Regions from separate parts of the Homo sapiens genome. Here region 2 is linked to region 1. Evidence: fine-mapped expression QTL. Tissue or cell type: whole blood. Region 1 holds a variant in brackets; the other region holds the start of a gene. All regions are shown on one strand. Distances are between the middles of the regions.

Region 1 (8,104 bases):
GCTCTTTTTCCAGTGTCTTAAGGTAGAAGATTAGGTTATCGATTAGAAACAATTTTCTTTGGCCGGGTGCGGTGGCTCATGCCTGTAATCCCAGCACTTTGGGAGGTCAAGGTGGGCAGATCACCTGAGGTCAGGAGTTCAAGACCAGCCTGGCCAACATGGCAAAACCTCGTTTCTACTAAAAATACACAAAGTAGCCAGGAGTGGTGGCAGGCACCTGTAATCCCTGCTACTCTGAGGCTGAGGCAGGAGAATCGCTTGAACCCAGGAGGCGGAGGTTGCAGTGAGCCGAGATAGGGCTATTGCACTCCAGCCTGGGAGACAAAGCAAGACTCTGTCTCAAAAAAAAAAAAAAAAAAAAGAATTTTCTTTTAATATAGGCATTTACAGCTATAAATTTCCCTCTGAGCACTCCATTAGCTACATCATAAGTTTTGGTATTTTCATCCTTCTTGGATACTTTATACTTCCCCTTGTGGTTTCTTCTTTGGCCCATTATTATTTAGGATGGGTTTTTAAAATTATCCATATAATTCATGAATTTCCCAAATTTCGTTCTGATTTTAATTTCATTCCATTGTGGCCACACAACATACTGTATGTGATTTAAGTGCTTTTAAATTTATTGAGGCTTGTTCAGTGGCCTGAAATTTGATCTGTCCTGGAGAATGTTTCATGTGCACTTGAGTAGAATGTATACTCTGTTCTTGCTGCATGGAGTGTTCTGTAGATGTCTGTTAGAATATATGTGTTCGTTGTGTTCAAGTCTTCTATTTCTTTGCTCGTCTGCCTAGTTGTCTATTATTGAAAGCAGAGTTATTAACGTGTCCAACTTTTATTTTTAAATTATCTGTTTCCTTCATTTCTGCCAGCTTTTGTTTCATGTATTTTTGGGCTCTATTGTTAGGTACATACATATTTGTAGTTGTTATATCTTTCTAATGGATTGACCCTTTTATCAACTATCCTTTCTCTCCGTAGAATGAATTTTTAAATACATGCTTATTTTAAACAGTTTGTGCAAAATTGTATTAAAGTATGTAAAATAAAAAACACATGCATATAACCCCCAAACCTGTAGAAATCAGTGTTAACAATTTATGGTGTATCTTTTGAGTCCTTTTAAAATAAACTTACAAATGTTCTTTAAACAGAAGAATCATAGTAATAATGTTCTGCAGCTTTTCAGAAATTAAAGCCGCATTAGATCCCAGAGATTACCTAATCTAAAATACTTCTTTTCAAAAATGAGAAAGCTGAGGCCAGAGAAGGGCAAGTAGGTGGCCAAGCTGGGACTAGAACCTGGGTCTCCTGACTTGCTGCAGTCAGGAGCCTTACTGAACCTTAACTGCCTCCTGGAACAAAAGGGTCTTGTAATACTGTGACAGATACATGGGCCATGAATGGTTATGGCAAAATCATTTTATAAGTTATACTTTGAATTAATTTTGAAGATTTTATCTAATTTTTTTTATAGCTTCTTGTAGAAATTCTTATGAGGCCTACGATCTCTATCCGGGGACAGAAACTGAAAAGTAAGTATACCTATTAGCTACTGGTCCTTGTTTTCCAACCTGCCGATACGGTGGCAGTTCCCAGCAGCTGCCTTCTTCCTTCCCTTCCTAACTCTTAATAGTAAGGACATGTCTTACATTTAGCTACAGGTTGCTCTCTCCTCCCCCAGCTAAGCAGCTGTCTTTATTCATTCTGTACTGCGTAGAAATTCAGATCTGGGTTAAGAGAATGCATCTTTGTACTTTTGATAGTCCTGTGATCCAGCTTCTATGTTTCCTTGGGAAATTCTTCTTTCTCACATATAACTAGCTGAGAGAGTAAGATCACTCTGTTTTATTTTTTTTAAACTATTTTTTTTAGAAAGGTGATACATGCTCTTTGTAAAAAGTTCAGGCATTACCAGGGTGTGAATGGTAAAAAGTCAGAGTGTTTTGGTATGCACTATTTCTTAAGCTGGGTGGTAGATATATGGGTAATATTCTATTATTATTTTTTATAACTTACACGTTACAAATAATTCTTTTTAGGTATTCAATTTTTTTTTTTTTGAGACAGTCTCTCGCTCTGTTGCCCAGGCTGGAGTGCAGTGGCATGATCTTGGCTCACTGCAACCTCCGCCTCCTGAGCTCAAGTGATTTTCCTGCCTCACCCTCTCAAGTAGCTGGGATTACAGGCGCCCACCACCATACCCGGCTAATTTTTGTATTTTTTTTTTTAGTAGAGATGGGGTTTCACCATGTTGACCAGGCTGGTCTCGAACTCCTGACCTCAAGTGATCTGCCCACCTCAGCCTCCCAAGTGCTGGGATTACAGGCATGAGCCACCGCACCCAGCTTCGGTATTTAATTTAAAATAAAAAAGTGAATGCACTTTACTCTGGTGTTAAAAGCCAGAGATGACTTCAGTTAATGTTTGGTGAATGCCCTCCTACCAACTTTGCGTTTTTTTAATTTAAAAGATTTTTTTTTTACCCCAATACGACATACTGTATAAGGCCTCATTTGTGCATGCAGTAGTGGTTATTAAGAGGATTTATATTCATTTTTAATGTCTCAGCTGTGTATTCTAACTTGGTCTTTCATGTTCTCTATGTACCCTCATAGCAAGTAGCATATTGTAATTATTTGTTGGTGCACTTGTTTAGTCTCTCTTCTTCCCACTAGATTTATAGGTTCCATGAAGGCTGAGACTTTTTTTCCCTCACCACTGTATCTGCTCTAGAGTAGATGCTGAACAATACTTGATGAATGAGTGAATCCCAATTCCTTTTAAAAATGGAGGATCTAGAAATAGTGAGATATATAGTGAGACATGCAGAGCAGTGTTTCACCCTGCTCTGAAGTCGTTAAATAAATCAATCACAGAGCCCCAGTAGGTTGAAAGGTGGTGATAAGGGATGCAGAGCGTCTGCGTTGTCTCAGGATTATGAGACAACCCATCTAGTCAAGCTAGCTTGGCAGGGCTGCCCATTGGGATCTGAGAAGGAGACCTAGCATTTTAGCATTCCTAGCAGCTTAGGAGTGAATGGAAACAATTTTAAAAAATAGAAGCAAGTGCCAAATAAAGCACTTTGTCCATGGTTCATACTCAGTTTCATCATCTTTTGGTTTTGGGCTCATGAAAATTAAGTTTCGTTTTTATGCTACTTTCCTGTTCCTGCTCACAGGGAAGTAGTAGTTTCTTTATAAGAATTAGT[A/C]ATAGATCAGACATTAAGAGCCATTTGCCCAACACAGATAACAGCAACAAAAAAAGAAATGCTCAGTTAATGAGTCTGATAAAAATGGTATTTTTGTTTGCTGCAGTAGAACTTTCAATGGAAATTTATAACAAGAGCAATTGAGATGCTTATACTTTTAACTTTTAGCCAGGCGTGGTACACGCGCATGCAGTCCTAGCCACTCGGGAGGGTGAGGAGGGAAAATTGCTTGAGCCTAGGAGTTCGAGACTACAGTGAGCTGTGATTGTGCCCCTGAGTGACAGAGTAAGACCTCATTTAAAAAACCAAAACAAATGAACAAAAAAAAGATGCCTATACTTTAGATTCTAGTAGTTCTACTTTTGAAAATGTATCTTGAGGAACTAGTTTAATACAAACATGAAAAGGATACACATATATATTAAGTTGTTCATTTGTGGTCTACTTAAATAGCCAAAAAACACAAAAAACAAAAAAAACAAATCCTAGATATATCCTAAGCAAGACATTAAGGGAAAATGGCTTTATTAAATGATGGCACAACAACAGGTTGAAATTATGAAGACTGTGGAGCATAATAAGAAAACAGCTGCTGTATCAAACCAAAAGCAATATGCAAATGGGCTTGTAGGTTCTGATGGGCACTATGAAAACCTTTGGTAGACAGGGGCTGGAAGAAGTATATTAAAGGAAAAATAATCATCTTGGAGGGGATTATAACAGTTCTTATGCTGAAAAAAATGTGGTAACTGTTGTACTATCTTTTCATTGAGAAAAATAACCAGTCATTACCCTTTCACTTTCAGTAAGTGATGAAATGTCCAAGGACTGCTTGAGTATCCTGTATAATACCTGTGTCTGTGTAAGTACCCCTGCCACTGGGGCTCTGTTTATCTCCCCTACCAGGTCTGCAATGTTTAAGATGGGAATATTCGAGTAGAATGGCAGACATAAGAGCTGCTTTCAGACAGTGGGGGAATCGGGCTTATTTTATGTGTGCCTGAAAATCAGGACTAACTGGTAGAAATTACGGGGAGGCAGAATTTTGTAGCAGTTGTTAAGAGCCAGGACTGCTGCAGCAGGTAGTAAACTCCTTTGGCCTTAGAGCTGTCCAAGTAGAAACTGGACACTTGTCAAAAGGTGACAAGTGTTGGCAGACTGTGACCTTTAAGACTCATTTTAACTCCATTATGCCTATTTCTTCATTTTCCTTGTTAGAAAACAAAATGAGAACCAGAAGCCCCGCCCATATATTGAGCAGGACTCTACTAGGTTGACCACTGAGCCAGGAAGAATGGTGAATAAAGAAAGCAATCTGGTAGAAACAAAAGAGGATGGCACTTAGTGTTAGGACCTGATTTTGTGTTCTGGCCCTTGGCTTAGTACACCTCCCAAGCCGTAGTTTCTTACCAATAGAATGCAGTTAGCAGTTGTATTAACATCATAGATTTATTGTGAGAAATGAGATAGTAGATGTGAAAACACTTTGTAAAACAATATATAAATGTTAGTTTTTAAAAGATACAGTACCTGTCTTTTAGAAACTTATGATAAACTGTGTAAACTGTGAATCATAATACATGGCAGAATGAGACGAGCGCTATTATAAATGTGAACCCTGTATGCTGTGGAAATAAAAAAAAAAAAACATTTAGCTCCATTTCATTTCTTGCCTCATTCAAAATAAGATTTCTGACATCTTGTGGGTGTATGCAAAATCTACCAAGATCACGAACTTAGAAGCAGGTAAGAAAGAAGAAGATAAAGGTGGGGACATAACGTATAGCCAGGAATTGGGCTGATATAAAAATGAAGACCATAAAATCATCTGTATTACGGATGGGCACAAATTTGGCTTCAAGCTTCTTAGCAGCCAACACAAATAGGGGAATATGTTTGAACACTTACGTAATTCAGCATCTATAATAGTGCTGTGCAATTGAAATATAATGCAAGCCACTTGGGTTATTTTAAATTTCCTTGTAGCCACATTTTTTTAAAGAAAAAAGTAGGAAGAAGTGGTGAAGTTAATTTTAATGATAAATTCTGTTTAACACAGTGTATCAAGAATATTGTCATTCTAACATGTAATCAGTATAATTAATTATTAATGAGATATTTACTTGTTTTTCGTATTGAGCTCTCAAAATCCAATGTGTGTGTGTGTTTTGTTTTTCTTTCCTCTTGTTTGAACACCCAGAGCACATCTTAGTTTGGCCTGGCCACCTTTTAAGTGCTCGGTAGCCATGTATAGCCAATGACAGAGATAGGCACAGGGAGATCTATAAGATAAAATTTCAAATTGTTCAGGAAATGCACAGTTCTTGCAACTAAGGCCAATAAGAAATTGTCCTTATAGAAGAAGACAGTGTATAATATAATGACTCCATCTTTGGCAACTCCATATAGTCACTAGTTTTATGAGGCCGTTTTAAAATCATGATACCTAATGTTAATCAGTGACATTCCAATAAAACAGTTAAGTTAAAAAAATGAAATGTATGAAGAGAAGTTGATTAATGGGTACAAATATATGGGATGATAAATAAGACCTAGTGTTAGATAAATCAGTAAGGGTGACTTAGTTTATAATATTCTGTTCTGTTTTACATTTCAAAATAGCTAGAAGAGAATTTGAATGGTTCTTAGCATAAAGAAAAGACAAGTATTTAAGCTGATGGCTATCCCAAGTACATTGATTTGATTTTTATAAATTATACGAATGTATTAAATTATATGCTCCCTGAAATTATGTACCTTTATTATATATCAACTAAAAGTATTTTTAAATAAAATTTTTTAAAAAATTTGAGGAACATAGGGCGATATGGTTCAATTATGTGCTATCTGGCTGAATTCCATGTTAATGTAGAGAACCTGGGGCTCTCAGGGTTGCAAACACCAATGCCTCCAGGGATCAGGCAGAAAACAGGAAATGTTTGGAATTGCTGGTGTTGGAGTGGGGACTTGTGTAAACTGTGACTAAACTGGAGCAAGTATGTCCTGTCTAAAGATGTTTGAATTCAAAAGTTTAAAAAGTACTGTTGGCCGGGCACGGTGGCTATCACCTGTAATCCCAGCAATTTGGGAGGCTGAGGCGGGTGGATCACTTGAGGTCAGGAGTTCCAGACCAGCCTGGCCAACATGGTGAAACCCCGTCTGTACTAAAAACACAAAAATTAGCCAGGTGTGGTGGTACATGCCTATAGTCCCAGCTACTCAGGAGAGGCAAGAGAATCACTTGAACCCAGCAGGCAGAGGTTGCAGTGAGCTGAGATTGCACCACTGCACTCCAGCGTGGGTGACAGAGTGAGGGTCTCTCAAAAAATAAAAGATAAAAAAATAAACAGTACTGCTCACCAGAAAAAGCTTGGCCTACTGGATGCTAGTTTGTAGCTCCTCATTTAGATACTTGACAGATACTAGGTCAAGAGCTTATGATTAGGCTGGGCGCAGTGGCTCACACCTATAATCTCAACACTTTGATAGGCCGAGGCAGGAGAATTGTGTGTGTCCAGGAGTTCAAGACCAGCCTGGGCAACATAGAACCTGTCTCTACAAAAAATAAAAAACTGGCTGGACGTGGTGTTATATACCATAGTCCCAGCTCCTCAGGAGGCTGAGGTGGGAGGATTGCTTGAGCCTGAGAGGTTAAGGCTGCGGTGAGCCATGATTGTGCCAGTGTACTCACTCAGCCTGGGCTATAGAGTGAGACCCTGTCTCCAAAAAAAAAAAAAAACCAAAAAAAAACCTATGATGAATGTTACATGGAAAAAACTCTCCCCCGAAAAATGTAGTTGCATACAACCTTTTATATATTGTTTTAGTGCTTTTTGGCCTCAGTTAAGAACTTGTGATATAGAGGAAAGGAAGGATTGTGATGGCCTTTTGGGTGGCCACTGTTGACTTGGGAAGGTTTTCCAAGAGGAGTCATTTTAGTCAGTCTGTAAAAGGAGTAGCACTTTGATAAATTGAAGAGAGGAGAAAGGTGGGTAGTCAAGGGTAGCTAGTTAGAGCAGCAGGGTTGTGTATTTGACAGCCTGGAGATAGATTTTTAAGCTTTGAGAAAGTGTAAATTTAGTTCTCTTTTTGTTCTGTTTCTTTGGATCTTCCAGAACTTTTGCTTGTCAGTAAAACTAGAGTCAGTCCTGTTTCACATATCATAGCCAGTGTAGGTACTGTATGTAGTTCGGGAATAACAACCTTTTTTTTTTTTTTTTTTAATGTGTCAGTGCTACGACTGAAGAACCGAAATGTATTAATACAGATGGAGATTGCTTTCTTTAGTGTCCTATTTAATGTGATCGTCAAAGATTTATATACGTGGCACATCTTTATTGATGCCTTCACTTTGAAAATTAAATTTGCCAGGTGCGGTGGTGCACGCCTGTAGTCCCAGTGATTCAGGAGGCTGAGGTGGGGGGATCGCTTGAGCCCAGGTGATTGAGGCTGTAGTGAGCTATATTCGTACTTGTGAATAGTCATGGCCTCAGCCTGGGCAACAGAGTGAGACCCTGTCTCTAAAATTAAAAGAAAGAAAATTAAATTTGTTGCAACATATCTCATTTCACTGATTCTGAAATGCCTCCTAGCTTGGGGTTCCCATTTACCAAACTGTGTGTGTCTGCACTCTTGATTATACTTTTTAAGGAGAAGTCAAGTTTATCGCAGTAAACCTTGGAATTTTTTCAGCTTAGAGGCTAAAAAAAAGAAATATTAAAGTCACTAAGCTCTAGTTGCCTTAAGGCAGTAGGGGTGGGATATATATGTGTGTGTGTGTGTGTGTGTGTGTGTGTGTGTGTGTAAGCTATAGCAGTACTGCAGTTTCTTTCTTTTTAGAGATAGGGTTTCACTCTGTCCCCATGCTGGAATGCAGTGGTGAGACAGATTGTA
Region 2 (8,104 bases), 180 kb after region 1:
ATTCTCCTGTCTCAGCCTCTCGAGTAGCTGGGATTACAGGTGCCCGCCACCACACCCGGCTAATTTTTGTATTTTTAGTGGAGACGGGGGTTTCACCATGTTGGCCAGGCTGGTCTCGAACTCCTGACCTCAAGTGATCCGCCCGCCTCGGCCTCCCAAAGTGCTGGGATTACAGGCGTGAGCCACTGCTCCTGGCCGATTTTCCTCATACATTTTAACAGACATGGAACCATCTATCAGAACTTCTGAACTATTACTAATACAATCCCAGCCCAAGTTAAAAAAATAAATAAAACAACTTGACATCGTAGTAACTCGTTCAGTCTTATACCGCGTAATTTCCATTAGGATGTCCGATATACTAAAAATAGATCGGGGACTCCATTACTAATCTGAGGACCCCAAGATGGGAACCAGACCCGTTATTGCCCTCAACAGTTCACAGGTTAAGGGTCTCAGGAGGCAGTGGCTGAGCTGGTGTGAAAGGGAAGCAAAGAAAGTTCTATTCGTGGCCCTCCTCCCTTCAAGGCTCCCGTCGCCCCTTAGAGACCCTCTTTTCGCCTCAGGAACTCCCCTTCTCTTCCCATGAAACTTTCACTCTCTTGGCCGACCTCCCCGTCCCAATCTCAAGGAACCTCACTTCTTCCCTCACGGAATCCCGCGTCTCCTCGCAAAAACCCGCATCTCCACCACGGACCCTCCAAGTCTGCAGGGAACTCCCCAGCTCCCATGGAACCCTCGTCTCCTCCCGGAATCCCTTTTCCATTTTCAAAGAACCGCAATTCTTCCTTCACAGAACCTCCATCTCCTCACCCACCCCTCAGCTTCCCAAGGGAGCCCCCGACTCCCCCAGGGAGCCCCCACTCTTCTCCTCACTGACACCCCAGGCCCGCCCGGGCCGGGCCTCACCCCGCGGCTCCTCCACGGAGCGCCGGTGCAGCTCGCGGTAGCGCTGCAGCGAGGGGACGTGCGCGGAGCGGCTGACCTCGGGCGGCGGAGACCAACTCCGCGCCCGGCCTCCGGCTCCAGCTTCCTCCTGGCCCCGGCTCCCGCTGCCGCTCCGGACCCGCTCCTCAGGAAGCCCCATCACGTCAAGTTCCTAGAACCGCGGCCGCCTTTGCGGTCGCGGCGGGTGCCGGGACTGAGAAAACAGGCCGAACTAGAGGCGGGGCCTCCGTAGAGGGGCGGGGCCTGGTGAGTGGGGGAGTGGCTTAGTCTGGCGGGTGGGCGGTGCCAGAGGGGGCGGGGCCGTGTCTGGTTGGGGAGGGATCGAGGTTGGCAAGGACAGAAATACTATAAGGAAAAGTCGAGGGATAGGGGTGGAGCTGACTTGCCGGAAGGAGTGACGCCGTCGAGTGAAAGCAGAAGGGGCGGGGCCGGGTGTGACAAGGGAGAGGGTGGAACCGTGGAGTGCCAAGGGAGGGGCGGGGCCAGGCGGGACAGGAGAGGAGGTGGGCCCATGGAGTGATGGGGAGTAACCCGGCTGGTTGTGACAGGAGAGGAGGCAGAGCCATGGAGTGACCAGAGTGGGGTGGGGTCTTGGAGTGACAGATAAGGGGTTGGGTTAAGGCAAGGATCGAAAGGGAAAGGGATGGACTAAGGAGAGGAGTTGAGTAAGGTCCATCGCGGAGCCGCCCCGTGATCTGATTGCACAGTCCTGACTATCACCAGTTCCTTCCAGGTGACACCCTTCCCTCCAGGTCCCCCCTCTCTGAGCCACACCCACATTCTCGTCCTCCGGAAAAACTTCTCCCATGACCTTGAGGGCATGCTCTGGCGACAGCACCTCCTCTCTGCTCACCCTGGAACCAGCTCAGATTTTCTCCCTCTTATGAGGACATGTCTTCAATCTCCTTGCCTTCACAAATCTCCATCCAGATCTAAAGTACAAGACTCAATAAGTGAAGACTAGGAGACACCTTCAGGTTTTTTGTAATAAGCCCACCTCCTAATTGCACAAATGGCAAACCCAGGAAAGGGAAGGAACTGGTGCACAGTCAGAGAGCAAATAACGACCAAGTTAGGGCCAAAGCTAGGTTCTTTGACTCCAGATTTGGTTTTACTTCCTCGTCAGGCTTGAAGCTAAGGCTTGTAAAATATCAAAGTCTGTGCAAATAGGAAAAATCATTCACATTCTCTTTTTTTGTTGTTGTTTTTGTTTTGAGATGGAGTCTCTCGCTCTGTCGCCCAGGCTGGAGTGCAATGGCACAATCTCGGCTGACTGCAACCTCTGCCTCCTGGATTCAAGCAATTCTCCTGCCTCAGCCTCCCGAGTAGCTGGAATTACAGGTGCACACCACCACACCCAGCTAATTTTTGTATTTTTAGTAGAGATGGGATTTCACCATGTTGTCCAGGCTGGTCTTGAACTCCTGACCTCAGGTGATCTGCCCGCCTTGGGCTCCCAAAGTGCTAGGATTACAGGCGTGAGCCACCACACCTGGCCCACATTCTCTTCTTTCCTTCACAATCTCTTTACTCCACCAAGGGAAACCCCCACCACCACCACCACAACCTGGGCTTAATTACCTCTAGCTTCTCTCTAGCCCCTCCACCCCAGAAAGAAGTCAGGCAGGACCCTCCTCCATCTCTCACCTGCACTCACCACAAAGAAGTGCCCACCTCACCATCATTTCACAGACTGGCTGTCAAGGCAGGAAGGATTCTTAAATATCTAACTCCAAGAGTGATTCTGAGGCCTGAAGCGGGCAGCTCCCACCTCCTGAAGCCTACACAGGCCTTGTGACCCCATCTAGCCCAGCCTCCCTTCCCAGCTACTTCCCTGCACTTTGCCCAGCTGACTGTAAACCTTGCACACCCTAAGCTGAAAAAAAATCTCTCTATGGGAGACCGAGAGTCTGCCCAATCCCAAGGAGGGCGGGAATCTGAGGGCCCACTGAAGGAGTACAGACCTCTTGGGGTGGACATAGACCCCACCAAGGGGTCAGATACTTTCATAAAGGAGATATTCACTGCACCGAAGGGACACACACTTCACTGACAGTACATGGACTCCACTAAGGGAGCACAGATGTTGCTGGGGGTTCTCAGATCTGACTGAAGGGCCCTGGGCCCTGCTAATAGGACATGAATGGCTTTGAAGGGCACTTACCCTAGTGAGGAGACATGGATTTCCCCTAAGAGATACAGAGGATATAGACTTTACTAAGGAGACGTGGACCCTACCAGAGGACTCAAACTCCAGTGAGGAGCTGCCAACTACACTGTGGGAGTGGACATCACTGAGAAGGTGCAGACCTCATCAAGTGGGGAAGGGTCCCACCAGAGGGATTAGACCTCAGGGTAGTGTAATAGACCCTACAAACATCACTGAGGAGATAAGAACTCTCTGGGGTGGGGAAAGGCACAGACAATGGGTACACTTTTTGGTGATAGACTGTTACCCTCCCTGGGCACTCTTACCACACAGCTCTGAGTAGCCCTCTCCTTCCTATCCTCTCTCCCAAGTCCTACACCCAAACCCCAGAGCTGTTCCCGACACACTGCTTCCCCCTCCTGTCTATAGTTGCTACTGCAGCTGCTGTGTATATAGTAGATTTTTCAAGCACTTCAGGCCATCCCTGAGACTGGTCTGGGGTTGGGAAGAGAAAGGATGTGTGTATAGAGGCTTCACCAGCCCCCCTCTCTTCCTGTGGACTTCACAATGAAAGTTTGGAACAGAGACCTCGTAAAAGAAGGAACCTCCCTCATCCTTGGATATGGAGAAGTAGTACAAGCTGTAGTGTGGTTGGAATTTTGGAGTGGAGAGAGGATGGATGAGTTTGGAGGGAATGAATCTACCAGATTAAGGCAATGATGATGATGATGATGATGCCATTTATTGAGTAGGTGCCAAGCCCTATACTAATCGCTTTCCATTCTGTTACTTAATCCTCATGACAACCCTCTAAAATGGGTACTATTATTCTTTCCATTTCACAGATGGGGAAACTGATAGAGAGACTAATTGTCTTGCCCAAGATTACACAGTGTTTGAGCGGTGGCAGAATAGAACCCAGACATCCAGAATATGGAGACCTATTCCCCACCTTGCCCCACTCCTGCCCTACCATCACTACCACCACTCCTTCTTTCTCAAAGTGTCCTTTCCAGAACCACATCAAAAACTCTTAAAATGATGGTAAATATTCAGGTTCCAAGGACCTCATCCCAGCCTACTGAATCATGATCTCTGGAGTGGAATCTGGGGATCCGCTTTCAAAGATCCTAACACACACTAAAGTTTGAGAATGCGGTTGAAAGAGGAGTCAGAAGTGTCGGGGTGCGGGAAGGGATCTGAGGTCAGAGGAGGGATCTGTTGTCCAAAGAGGCGTCTGCAGTCAAAGAGGCCTGGAGATGAAGCATGGGCTGGGGTTTTCAAAAGGGTTTGGGGGTGAAGACAGAGTCTGAAGTCGAAAAAGAGGTCTAAGGTCGGAGGAGGAGTCTAAAATCGGAGGAGGAGGATCTCGGAATTCAAGGAGGGGTCTGGGGTCCGAGGAGTTTGGGGTCAGAGACAGGATCTGGGGTCGAGAGGGATTTGCGGTCAGTGAAAGGGTCTGGGGCCCGAAAAGGAAGCCTGGGATTTGAGGAGGACACTAGCTGTATTCAGGCTGGAAGGAGGAAGGGGTTTGGTCCCTGAGCTGCGTAAAGTGCAGAGCCACTGAAGTCTCGCTTGCCCCGCGCTCTCCCCTCGACCCTGCGCTGCCTTCCTGGCTGTCCATCTACACGCACCTGTGTGCCAGCTGCAGGCTGATAGCGCTGAGCAGACGGGGGCGAGTCAGACCGGGACACGGCCGAGGGCTGGGAGAGGCGCCCCCTCCCGGCTGTCGCGAAGATCAGGCCCCGCCCTCCGCCCTCCCACTCCCCCGCCGCAGCCACTTCCGGCAGGCGCTGCGCTGCTGGGGGGCGCGGGCGAGGATGGCGGCGGAGAACGAGGCCAGCCAGGAGAGCGCCCTGGGCGCCTACTCGCCAGTGGACTACATGAGCATCACCAGCTTCCCGCGGCTGCCCGAGGACGAGCCGGCGCCCGCGGCCCCGCTGAGGGGCCGCAAGGACGAGGACGCCTTTCTGGGAGACCCCGACACCGGTGAGGCCCGCTGACCCCGTCCCTGCCCTGCCTTGGGAAGTCCCCGGTCTTCCTTCTTCTGTGTCAAGCATCCACCTCCAGCTCCATCTCCTTAATTCATCCCCATCTTCTTGGATCTCTCCCTTCTTCTCCCTTGTCTCTGTTAATTATTTGGTGAGGAAGGGGGTGCATTTCTGCCTTGGAGGCGTAGGATGCGACAACGGAGAGGATGCTAGGGACTGCAGTAGAAGGGATTGGGCTTACCTTCTGGGAAGAACCAACTAACGATGAAGGAATGTTGAAGGGGAGATCCTAAGGAACCGCTGTGATCACCCAGAAGAGGGCTTTCTCTAGCCACAGAGGACAGGATAGGAGAAACCAAGTCAGAGACTGCAGCAAGAGGGATCCAATCTGTGCCTTAAGAGAAGTTCCCCACAGCCAGGGATTGTGAGAAGCAGAGGGTCTGGGAGAAGCGGAGAATCTCTTCATGTCTAGGGAGGGGTAAAGAGAATATGATTCCCCTCTGTTGGGTGTTGGGAGACGGAGGCATGGACTGCATGACCTCTCAAAAGTCCTTGGGGACTAGAACGCCTTCACTCTCCTGTGGATTACCCCACCCCTCCCTGAGCCATGGATCTGGCCGGGGTATTAGTAAGGTACTCTGCTCCCTAGGAAGCAGTCTCCAGAATTTTACTGTGTTCCCCTCAGCCCTCTGCTGGAATTGTGAGAAGTGGGGGTAAGAGAAGGAGGAGACAGGGATTGGAAGAGACCTGGGGGCAAAGAGCTCTCTGTGCATTCCTTCCCTGCTGCTCTTCCTCCTAGCCATGTGGCCCAGCTTCATCCTCCCCTCCATTCTTCATCCTTCATCCCCCATCCCTCTGTCCCTGCACGTCACTTCCTGGCATTAGAGCATCCTTCTACCTCACTCTCGCTTCCTCGCAGTGCCTGCACTTGAGCCTTGTCTCTTACCAGCCTGGCAGATGCTGCTTTTCCGGCTTGGCCCTTCCCTAGCTGCTCCCAGCCTGAAAGCCCCAAATTCTCTCCTCCTCTACACTTTCTGGTCATCTGGCCCTGACCAGCAGCCCTTGCCAACCTGACTGGACTGCACTCTGTATGGGGTGGGGGTGAGGAGATAATGAAGATGGAGTTTAGAGGTTTATGGGCGTCAAATGTCAGGGCTGCGGATCAAAACTTATTTTCCAAAGGGAGTGGAATCAGGAGGTAGCAGGGAGAGGAGTGGGAAGATGTGTCATGATGGATATCAGCCTGAAGCTAGGCCTTTTATTCAGTAGTCAGGAGTGAGACTTCTGGTCCTAATACAGCCCTGACTCACCAAGCGACAACAGGCACACCTACCCTGTCCTGGGCCTTAGTTTCCTCTTCCAGCTCAACAGAGAATGCCTGTCTCTCTTGACCTAGAGATTGGAACTGCCTGACATGTTTTCTTCTGGCCCTCTGTAAATGTCTTAGCATTTACCAAAATCTATGATTATTTATTTGTGCAATTATCTGATTACTCCCTGTCTGTAAGCCCCATGAGGGCAGGGATCATGATTGTTTTGTTCACTCTCCTTTCTCCAGCATCAAGACCTTATCCATAGGCCGGGCGCGGTGGCTCATGCCTGAGGTGGGTGGATCACTTGAGGTCAGGAGTTCAAGACCTGCCTGGCCAACATGGTGAAACCCCATCTCTACTAAAAATACAAAAATTAGCTGGGCATGGTGGTGGGTGCCTGTAATCCTAGCTACTCGGGAGGCTGAGGCAGGAGAATCACTCGAACTGGGGAGGCAGAGGTTACAGTGAGCCGAGATCACTCCACTGCACTCCAGCCTGGGTGACAGAGTGAGACTCAGTCTCAAAAAGAAACAAAAAACAAAAAACAAAACAAAATACACTGGCCGGTGTGGTGGCTCACACCTGTAATCCCAGCACTTTGGGATGCTGAGGCGGGTGGATCACCTGAGGTCAGGAGTTCAAAAACAGCCTGGCCAACATGACAAAACCCCATCTCTACTAAAAATACAAAAAAAAAAAATTAGCCAGGCCTGGTGGCAGGTGTCTGTAACCCCAGCTACTCAGGAGGCTGAGGCAGAGGTTGCAGTGAGCGAAGATCGCGCCATTGCACTCCAGCCTGGGCAACAGAGTGAGACTCTGTCTCAAAAAAACAAACAAACAACAACAACAAAAAAAACCCTCATCTCTATTTATTTATTGGGCACTCAATAATTGTTGAATGAATAAATGCATGAGAGAGAAGATCTCAGGATGAAAGAATGGTAGGAGAGAGGATGAAAGAATGGTAGGAGAGAGCAAGTTCCAAAACCTCAGGGAGTATTTTGGGAAGTTCAATACAGGCTCTGCCCTCACCCCTGTATGGAAATCCAGCAGAGATCCTAGTCATCTGAGCTTCTGGGAGTTTATACCTTATGCCAAATTTATGTGTCAGGTTTGTGTGTTGCCATCATTTCAGTGTAATCATTTGAATGCCATATCTCCCAATCCTACTTCCAAGCCCCAAGGCTTCCTCGGTTCACCTGGACCAGACTACAGGCTGACATGGCCTCCTGTGTTCTCAACCTGGTGGTACCATCTAGTGGCACAGCACCATCCTCTTAGCCAGGACCTTGGTTGTGCCCAGCTAGCCTCTAGCCTGCCATTCCCTAAACCCAAGTGCCAGGCACCCCACATCAGGCTCTGTGGGAAAGAGAGCTAGACAGTGATCATTCCAAGGTTGGGAAATACTTTCTTTCTTCTGAGCTCCAAGCCCTTGTGTTCCTTTCTCTCCCAGGCCTGTGTCTCCAGATGTCCTGCAAGTGCCTCATCTATAGCATGTTCTATTTTGAACTCATCATATCCCTTCCCCATGCACCTGCTCTTCCTCCACTGCCATTCTCCATTAATGACACTGCCAGTCACCCAGTCTCCCAATAATGAATGGCATGCTGGACTCCTCCTTTTCTTCTCATTTCCAAATGGTGATCAAGTGCTCTCTGCACCCCTCCTAAGTATCTTCCAAATTCCTACTCATCATCCCTGTC

Evidence for each region. PIP is the estimated chance that this variant, and not a neighbour inherited with it, causes the effect.
Region 2: GGT7 starts here. The variant in region 1 is fine-mapped to the expression of GGT7 in whole blood (TOPMed, PIP above 0.99).

Annotation. Positions count from the first base shown.
Region 1 is chr20:35,050,945-35,059,048 of GRCh38, reverse strand. It overlaps TRPC4AP (transient receptor potential cation channel subfamily C member 4 associated protein), which reads left to right. Exons shown (of 19, transcript NM_015638.3): 4 at 1,478-1,535; 5 at 4,018-4,073. Among named protein-coding and RNA genes, the nearest start is that of TRPC4AP, 38 kb to the left of the region's middle. RefSeq lists an enhancer at 3,052-3,161. The variant A/C (reference allele first, on the strand shown) is at 3,212.
Region 2 is chr20:34,869,629-34,877,732 of GRCh38, reverse strand. GGT7 (gamma-glutamyltransferase 7) reads left to right here and starts at 4,877. Exons shown (of 15, transcript NM_178026.3): 1 at 4,877-5,086. The coding sequence starts at 4,918. It overlaps ACSS2 (acyl-CoA synthetase short chain family member 2), which reads right to left and starts at 1,121. Exons shown (of 18, transcript NM_018677.4): 1 at 910-1,121. The coding sequence starts at 1,087. RefSeq lists silencers at 833-1,262, 1,343-1,482, 4,706-4,995 and enhancers at 1,753-1,802, 1,823-1,902.